Homo sapiens: one gene and its partner. The protein of the gene in region 1 purifies or fractionates together with the protein of each later gene. This does not show direct contact. Each region holds a gene or a part of one and is shown on either strand. Other genes may lie near its edges.

The links.
Region 2: the proteins of CA11 (region 1) and PM20D2 purify together in Homo sapiens (affinity purification with mass spectrometry, with the first as the bait; one large-scale study listed by BioGRID). This does not show direct contact.

What each region holds. Positions count from the first base shown.
Region 1 is NC_000019.10:48,643,083-48,647,511, reverse strand, and holds the start of CA11 (carbonic anhydrase-related protein 11 precursor), read left to right. Parts: upstream 1-1,324; 5' UTR 1,325-1,879; coding exon 1,880-1,946; intron 1,947-2,034; coding exon 2,035-2,109; intron 2,110-2,942; coding exon 2,943-3,085; intron 3,086-4,429. UniProt on the Homo sapiens protein: Does not have a catalytic activity.
Region 2 is NC_000006.12:89,155,905-89,159,713, forward strand, and holds part of PM20D2 (xaa-Arg dipeptidase), read left to right. Parts: intron 1-2,420; coding exon 2,421-2,556; intron 2,557-3,809. UniProt on the Homo sapiens protein: Catalyzes the peptide bond hydrolysis in dipeptides having basic amino acids lysine, ornithine or arginine at C-terminus. Postulated to function in a metabolite repair mechanism by eliminating alternate dipeptide by-products formed during carnosine synthesis.

The DNA of each region.
Region 1 (4,429 bases):
TCCCAACTATTTGGGAGGCTGAGGTGGAAGGAGTGTTTAAGCCCAGGAGGTCGAGGCTGGATCAAGCCATGATCGCACCACTGCTCTCCAGCCTGGGTGACATTGCAAGGCTTGTCTCAAAAAAGAAAATAAAAGAAGACAATGAGCAGTTTCACTACCATTAGACGGGGTGAAAAATAATAAATAACAACAACAACAGTAATATGTGGTCTCTCTGAGGCTGGGTATGGTTGTTCATGCCTGTAATCTCAATGCTTTGGGAGGCCAAGGTGGGAGGATCCCTTGAGGACAGGAGTTTGAGACTAGCCTGAGCAACATAGCATGACCCCATCTCTTCTCCCCAAATACAAAAATGTGGTGTCTCTCTCTGTCTTTGGATCGCTCTTTCTCTCTTTTTGTCTCTCCCCACCCCATCTGCTGCTTGGTCTCTGAGTTTCTGTCTATCTCTAAGTGTGTGTCTCTATGTCTCCATGTCTGTCTCGCTGCGTCTCTGTATCTCCTTTTCTGCCTCTATCTGTATCTCTCTCATTCATTCCTTCCTCTCTCCCTCCCCCTCCTCCTCTCCCTCCTCCCCCTCCTCTCCCTCCCCCTCCTCTCCCTCCTCCCCCTCCTCCTTCACCTCCTCCCCCTCCTCCTCACTCCTGCCTGGCGGTTTGTTCTTGCCTCTCTAACCTTCTGTCCCTCCGCCCTTCCTCTCCGTATCCATCTCAGGCTCCCTTCCCCTCCCCAGCCTACGCAGATGTGGGTCCTCACCTCCCGCTCTCCGCCTCTGCCCTCCCGGCTCCTCCTCCCCGCCCCTCTCTCCCTCGCCAGGTCTCTGCCTCCCCCTCCAGGCGAGCAGCCCTCACTGCACTTCAGGCTCCTAGGGGATCCCCCGGCCCCGTTAAGGCAGCCCCAGGCAGAGACCCAGTGGAGCCCTGGGGCGGGGAAGGGGGGCTGCGGGCGCTGGGGCGGCTCCAACCTGGGTCCCAGCGAGCAGGGGGACCCTGCATCCGCCAAGGCCGGCGGCCCCCAGCATGGAGACTTCCGAAGCCACTCCCAGCTCCACCTTAAGCGCCCCCCCTTCCCCTTGCTGCGGAGGATGGAAACAGCCTGCTCCCGGCCCCAGGTGTCCCGGCCACCCCCGCCCGCGTGGCCCCAGCGCGGCTGGGAGCCGAGGACCAGCCCCCTACCTCCTTCCGAATCCTGCCCTTTCGCACATCCCACCCCAAGCCAACCCGAGGAGTGTTTGCCGCTATGAGATCACCTGCTCCCCCAGCCCAACAACAAAATTAAATAACACCACGGGAGAGGAGAGAGGGAGGGGGAGGAGGGAGGAAGGGACAAGAGAGAAGAGAGACTGAAACAGGGAGAAGAGGCAGGAGAGGAGGAGGTGGGGAGAGCACGAAGCTGGAGGCCGACACTGAGGGAGGGCGGGAGGAGGTGAAGAAGGAGAGAGGGGAGAAGAGGCAGGAGCTGGAAAGGAGAGAGGGAGGAGGAGGAGGAGATGCGGGATGGAGACCTGGAGTTAGGTGGCTTGGGAGAGCTTAATGAAAAGAGAACGGAGAGGAGGTGTGGGTTAGGAACCAAGAGGTAGCCCTGGGGGCAGCAGAAGGCTGAGAGGAGTAGGAAGATCAGGAGCTAGAGGGAGACTGGAGGGTTCCGGGAAAAGAGCAGAGGAAAGAGGAAAGACACAGAGAGACGGGAGAGAGAAGAAGAGTGGGTTTGAAGGGCGGATCTCAGTCCCTGGCTGCTTTGGCATTTGGGGAACTGGGACTCCCTGTGGGGAGGAGAGGAAAGCTGGAAGTCCTGGAGGGACAGGGTCCCAGAAGGAGGGGACAGAGGAGCTGAGAGAGGGGGGCAGGGCGTTGGGCAGGGGTCCCTCGGAGGCCTCCTGGGGATGGGGGCTGCAGCTCGTCTGAGCGCCCCTCGAGCGCTGGTACTCTGGGCTGCACTGGGGGCAGCAGGTAAGACCTGGGGTTCCCGGGAGGAGCCCCCGAGGGAGGGTGGAGGTGGGGATGCCAAGGAGAGGGATTCAGGCTGCTCTCTTCCCAGCTCACATCGGACCAGCACCTGACCCCGAGGACTGGTGGAGCTACAAGGATAATCTCCAGGGAAACTTCGTGCCAGGTGCCGCCAAGGCGGGGACCCAGGAGTCCGGCCCTCCCGGCGCCTCCTTCTTCAGACTCAGGAACCTGGGTTCCCAGCTCCCTCCTCCCCCCCAGGACCAGGAGTCCCAGCCCCCTCCTCTGTCCCTCAGGAGTCGGGCCAGCTTCTGAACCCCAGGGGCTCACCATGGGACATTATACATGCGCATTTCAAGTAGTGAGTGGGAGTGAGTGGAAGGAAAGTGTGGGGGTGGAGATTATGTGTGTGTTTGCCGGGAGAGGAAGGTCCTGGCTCCTGCTAGGAACCAGAGGCTGGGTGGCCCCGTCCCCCACCTTGTCCAGCCTTCTCTTGCAGCTCCTCTCCCCAACACATTAATAATAATCCAGCTGTGGGATAAGAGCGATTAAAAAAAAGAACTACAACTCCCACGGGGCTCTGGGGCAGGTAGGCAGCAGAGGGGTAGGCTGGTAGCACTGGGGCCTGCTGGGAGTTGTAGTTCCATCTACAGTGGCTTAAGATGGGTTTGATCGGCTGGGCGCGGTGGCTCACGCTTGAAATCCCAGCACTTTAGGAGGCCGAGGTGGGTGGATTACCTGTGGTCAGGAGTTCAAGACCAGCCTGGCCAACTTGGTGAAACCCGTCTCTGCTAAACTTGGAAACTATTCCAAGATTCTTCTAGGACCCAGAATTCTGGATCTGAGCCCAGTCCTCCCTCAGACCCAGGAGTCTAGGTCCCTAGCCCCTCCTCCCCTGGGATCTGGGAGTCCAGACCACAGCCCACTCAGCAGATACCAGCCCTGGGATCCAGTCTCTATTTCTGACTCCTTGTCCTCCTACTCCGACCCCACCCCCAGGGCCTCCTTTCTGGGGCCTGGTGAATGCAGCGTGGAGTCTGTGTGCTGTGGGGAAGCGGCAGAGCCCCGTGGATGTGGAGCTGAAGAGGGTTCTTTATGACCCCTTTCTGCCCCCATTAAGGCTCAGCACTGGAGGAGAGAAGGTAAGGGGCTTGGAGGGAGGAGCTATTGAACCCACTGGGGATGGGCATGAATAGAGGCTGGGGAATGGGGTGCTGAGGTAGGAGAGCAGCCTTGGGGGAGGAGGGGACACCCAGTGGGTGGAGAGGAGGCTGCTTACACTGTAAAATGGATCACCCATTCTTCCCATCCCAAGCATGGTCCCCTAGTCTCCCCATCTCTGCAGAAGCAATGAAAAGCAGAACATTTCCTGTGCCAGGCAGATTTAAAACCTTGATAAGCCTCTCATCTCATAACCACCCCACAAAATGGGTACAATTATTATTATTGTTATTATTATTATTATTATTTTGAGATGGAGTTTTGCTCTTGTTGCCCAGGCTGGAGTGCAATGATGTGATCTCAGCTCACTGCAACCTCCACCTCCCAGGTTCAAGCGATTCTCCTGCCCCAGCCTCCCGAGTAGTTGGGATTACAGGCATGCGCACCATCACGCCCAGCTAATTTTTTGTATTTTTAGCAGAGATGGGTTTTCTCCATTTTGGTCAGGCTGGTCTTGAACTCCTGACCTCAGGTGATCCACCTGCCTCGGCCTCCCAAAGTGCTAGGATTACAGGCATGAGCCACTGCGTCCAGCCAAAATGGGTACAATTATTAACCTTATTATATACATGCAGAAACTGACACACAGAGGTTAAGTTACTTGCCTAGGATCACACAGAGAGCCAGCACTGGCATTCAAACCAAGCAGCGTAGCATGAATGCTGGGACCTGCTTTATAGTACCATGCTGGGAACCATACTTTTTTTTTTTTTTTTTGGAATTGGGATCTCACTCTGTGACCCAGGCTGGAGTGCAGTGGCCCAGTCATAGCTCACTGTAACCTCAAATTCCTGGGCCCAAGTGATCTTCCTACCTCAGCCTCAAAAATAGCTAGGACATGCCTGGGTGTGGTGGTTCATGCCTGTAACCCCAGCACTTCGGGAGGCCGAGGTGGGTGGATCACGAGGTTAGGAGTTCGAGATCAGCCTGGCCAACATGGTGAAACCCCATCTCTACTAAAAATACAAAAATTAGCCGGGTGTGGTGGCATGTGCCTGTAATCCCAGCTACTTGAGAGGCTGAGGCAGGAGAATTGCTTGAACCCGGGAGGCGGAGGTTGCAGTGAGCTGACATCACGCCACTGGACTCCAGCCTGGGTGACAGAACAAGACTCCATCTCAGAAAGAAATAAATACAGAGAGAGAGGGAGAGAAAAGAAAGAGAGAGAGCGAGAAAGAAAGAGAGAAAGAGAGAAGGAAGGAAGGAAGGGAAGGAAGGAAAGGAAGGAAGAAGCCAGGACTGCAGGCACATGCCAGTATGCTTGG
Region 2 (3,809 bases), on another chromosome or scaffold:
GGCGGAGTCTTGCCCTGTCACCCAGGCTGGAGTGCAATGGCGCAATCTCAGCTCACTGCAACCTCTGCCTCCCAGGTTCAAACAATTCTCCTGCCTCAGCCTCCTGAGTAGCTGGGATTACAGGCGCCTGCCTCCACACCCAGCTATTTTTTTGTATCTTTAGTAGAGACGAGGTTTCATCATGTTGGCCAGGCTGGTCTCGAACTCCTGACCTTGTGATCCACCCACCTCAGCCTCCCAAAGTGCTGGAATTACAGGTGTGAGCCACCACACTGACTGGTTTTGTTGATTTGAACTATAAAGTTAGTATTTAAAATCATGTACTGTGTAAAGTGGAGTGAGTTTTAGAATTATACAAGATAAGAATCTTGCCCTAGAGGGAGCCTGTAGTCTAGTTGGAGAGACAAGATCTTGACCCATAACTCTCAGCCTAGCTAATTCTGTAACCTTTAGAAATGTTTAGTGTCTTTGGCTCTCCATTTTCTTGCTTGAAAAATGGAGATAATAACAATTTATCTTAGGATTCTTGTGAGAATTAAATGAGATAATGTTTCTGAAGGGTTTAGAGCCCAGCCTTCATTTATATTGCCTTATTTTTTTCTGTTCTTATTAGTCTAGAGATGTATGATTGATTCACGTAGTAGCAGTATCTCACAGTAGCAGTAATTCTCAGAAAGCATATGTTACGTGTCCTGAGAGTAGTGTGGAATGTGTCGTGAGGATCAGAGGTGGGAAAGAGTGGTCTGGGGCTGTTAACCTTGGAGGAAGGTTTTGTGGAAGACTGTAGACCTGAACTGAGCTTTGAAGGTTGATCATACTTTCAGATATGCATGGGAAAGACAGAGACTGAAAGTTCTTAGGGAATATAGTCAGCAAAGATAAGAATATAGAAGCTCGTGTTGTGTTGTAGTTAATCGATAAACATATGGACAGATGTAGGAGCAAAGATGTATTCTCATATGCCACTAGAGAAGATGGTTATAGTGAATGAAAACTGTGAAATGTCCATAGCTGAGGGCAGTAAAAACTAAATATTTATTCCCTTATTCATTTATAATTATAAATATTTATTTGTGAAATACTTATGGATGTGAACTATTATCATTAGGCAATATCTCAAGGTATACAGTATTCCCTTATGGTAAGGTTTGTTGTTATTGGATTTGAATCTATATTTAATTTAATTTATTTATTTTTAAAGTTTTTTGTAGAGATAGGCTCTCCCTGTGTTGCCCAGGCTGGTCTCAAACTCCTGGGCTCAAGTGATCCTCGTGCTTTGGCCTCCCAAAGTTCTGGGATTGCAGGTGTGAGCCACCTTGCCTGGCCTAAATCTATATTTTAAATAATCTTTTAGTAATTTCTTATATTTTGGCTGACTTGTAAGGTCTGATTTGGTTGTCATAATTTCTACCGTAGATGTTGCTAAGAATAAAAGAAATGTCATCTCTGCCATTTTATGATTGGCTTTTGCTAATATTGGTTTGAGGGAATATTGCCAATTTTTATTTAATCAAAACTGAATCTGTAAATCCACTTAACTGGGCACATAAAAGCTGCTTCCGTATCTTTATATACTGAAATTAATAAATGAGGACTGTTGTCAACCCTTCCTCATTGCAAATCTTCTACATTTCCCTCAGAGTACTTTTCTACCTCTCACACCAGGCAGTGATGTCAGTGTCAGTTTGCATATTGAATATTAGTAAAGCTTAATTTCTTTTTTTTGGAGACTGAATCCTAGAGCAGTGTTCCTCAGAGTGTGGTTTTTGGGTCACCTATGTCAGAATTACTTTGAGGTGCTGGTTAAAATAAAAATTAGGCTGGGTGCAGTGGCTCATGCCTGTAATCCCAGCACTTTGGGAGGCCGAGACGGGCAGATCACATGAAGTCAGGAGTTTGAGGCCAGCCTGGCCAACATGGCAAAACCCCATCTCTACTAAAATACAAAAACAATTAGCTGGGCTTGGTGGCAGGCGCCTGTAATCCCAGCTACTTGGGAGGCTAAGGCAGGAGAATCATTTGAACCTGGGAGGCGGAGGTTGTGGTGAGCTGAGATCACACCACTGCACTCCAGCCTGGGCAACAGAGTGAGACTCCATCTCAAAAATAAAATAAAAATTTCTGGGCCCTTCTCATACCCTATCTAGGTGACTGAAGTTGACACTTGGTAGCTAGTATAGAGCTTGGTGACATTGTGGGGTTTAGTGTATATATAGCATAAAAGAGAGTCCTAGGAACTCTCGTTATAGAAAATAAATCTTTTTTCTTTTTTAAGGTAAGAGATTTGAGAGTGTTTATATCTGGAAGGGAAAGTATCTTCTCTTAAAACCTCTTCCTATTAGAGAACAATCACTGGTTTGAAAATTAGATAGTGAATTTGAGTTTTTTATTTCAAAATTTGTTTTGCAATTTTTTATTAGGTGGAAATTAAAGGTGGAGCACATGATTATTACAATGTTCTTCCCAATAAGAGCCTATGGAAAGCCTATATGGAAAATGGAAGAAAGCTAGGAATAGAGTTCATTTCAGAAGATACAATGTTGAATGGCCCTTCAGGTAATTAAGTGTTTTTTTATATATTGAGCTATTTGAGGAAGAGAAATACCATCTTTGGTTAAATTGGTTGTATTTAATGGTTTGGGAGGTCGGGAGGTACTACTGACGTTTTTAATATTTTCACAAACTTTATGGTTAGGGGAAAGAAACTAATGGACTCTTAAGTGAGTGTAGAATGTCAAACGAGCAGACTTGATTTTAGAAATAGTCAACCTACATTTTTGTCTGTATTCTAAATATTTTCTAGTGTTTAAGTTTCGTTAGTTTTAATTTTTAAGTAAGTTGCTAAGGTGGGATATAGAATTTTAATTCATTCTCAGTCATCACAATAAGCAGGTTACTAAGTACTTAGTTATCTGGGGCATTTTCAGTTTCTGAGGAGCAACAGACAGCTAGAATTGAAATAAGCATATTTGGGGTTATGTTAGTTTTTTTTTCCTTTTAAAAGCATATTATTACTAATACATTTGCAAGTTAGAGATGTATCATCTGTTTTAAAAATAGATGTTGTTGAAGTAGGCCCAAAAGGACTTGGTGGTGAAAATGGGGTGTCGGTGTCATTCATTAAGATAAGGAGTTCAAGAGAAAGAGCAGGTTAGGGTAAGAGGGGGTTGTTATAAATTATTAGTATGTTAAACTTGAGGTGCTTATAGTATTTCTAAGTGGAGCTGTTCAGTACCTGTTAAATCTAGAACCCAAAAAGATGTCTAGTTTGGAGATTTAGGAGTTGTCCATATATGAAAGGTATATAGAAGACATAGATGTCGATGAGGTTGCCCAAATACATAGAGGAAGAAGATTCCCAGAGATCAGACATTGGCAGTCAACGAAGTGGTCAGAGAGAAAGCCAGACAATCAGGAGAGAGGAGAAGTCATGGAAGCCAAGGGAGAAGAAAACTTACAGAAGAGAAGGAGGCATAAATCATGTCAAGTGCTGTAGAGACTGAATAAGATGAATATGGTCTAGTGTCCACTGGACTCTAGTAATTAGAAATTCATGAATTGTCTGGAAGAAAATAGTATAAGACCAGTGGTACCAGATGCTGGGTCTCACTTCTCTACCCAGGGCATTGACTGCTGAGATAGTGGAAGTAGCAAATGAAGACTATTCTTTTTCAAGAGAGTTAGCTTTCAAGGAAAATAGAAAGAGTGGATACAAGCTTGAGGGAAATACGGAAAAGAAAATAGTTTTTAAGGGAAGATACTTGAGAAGTAGATGTAATGTTTAGGAAGGAGGTCAGGGAGTTCAGAGA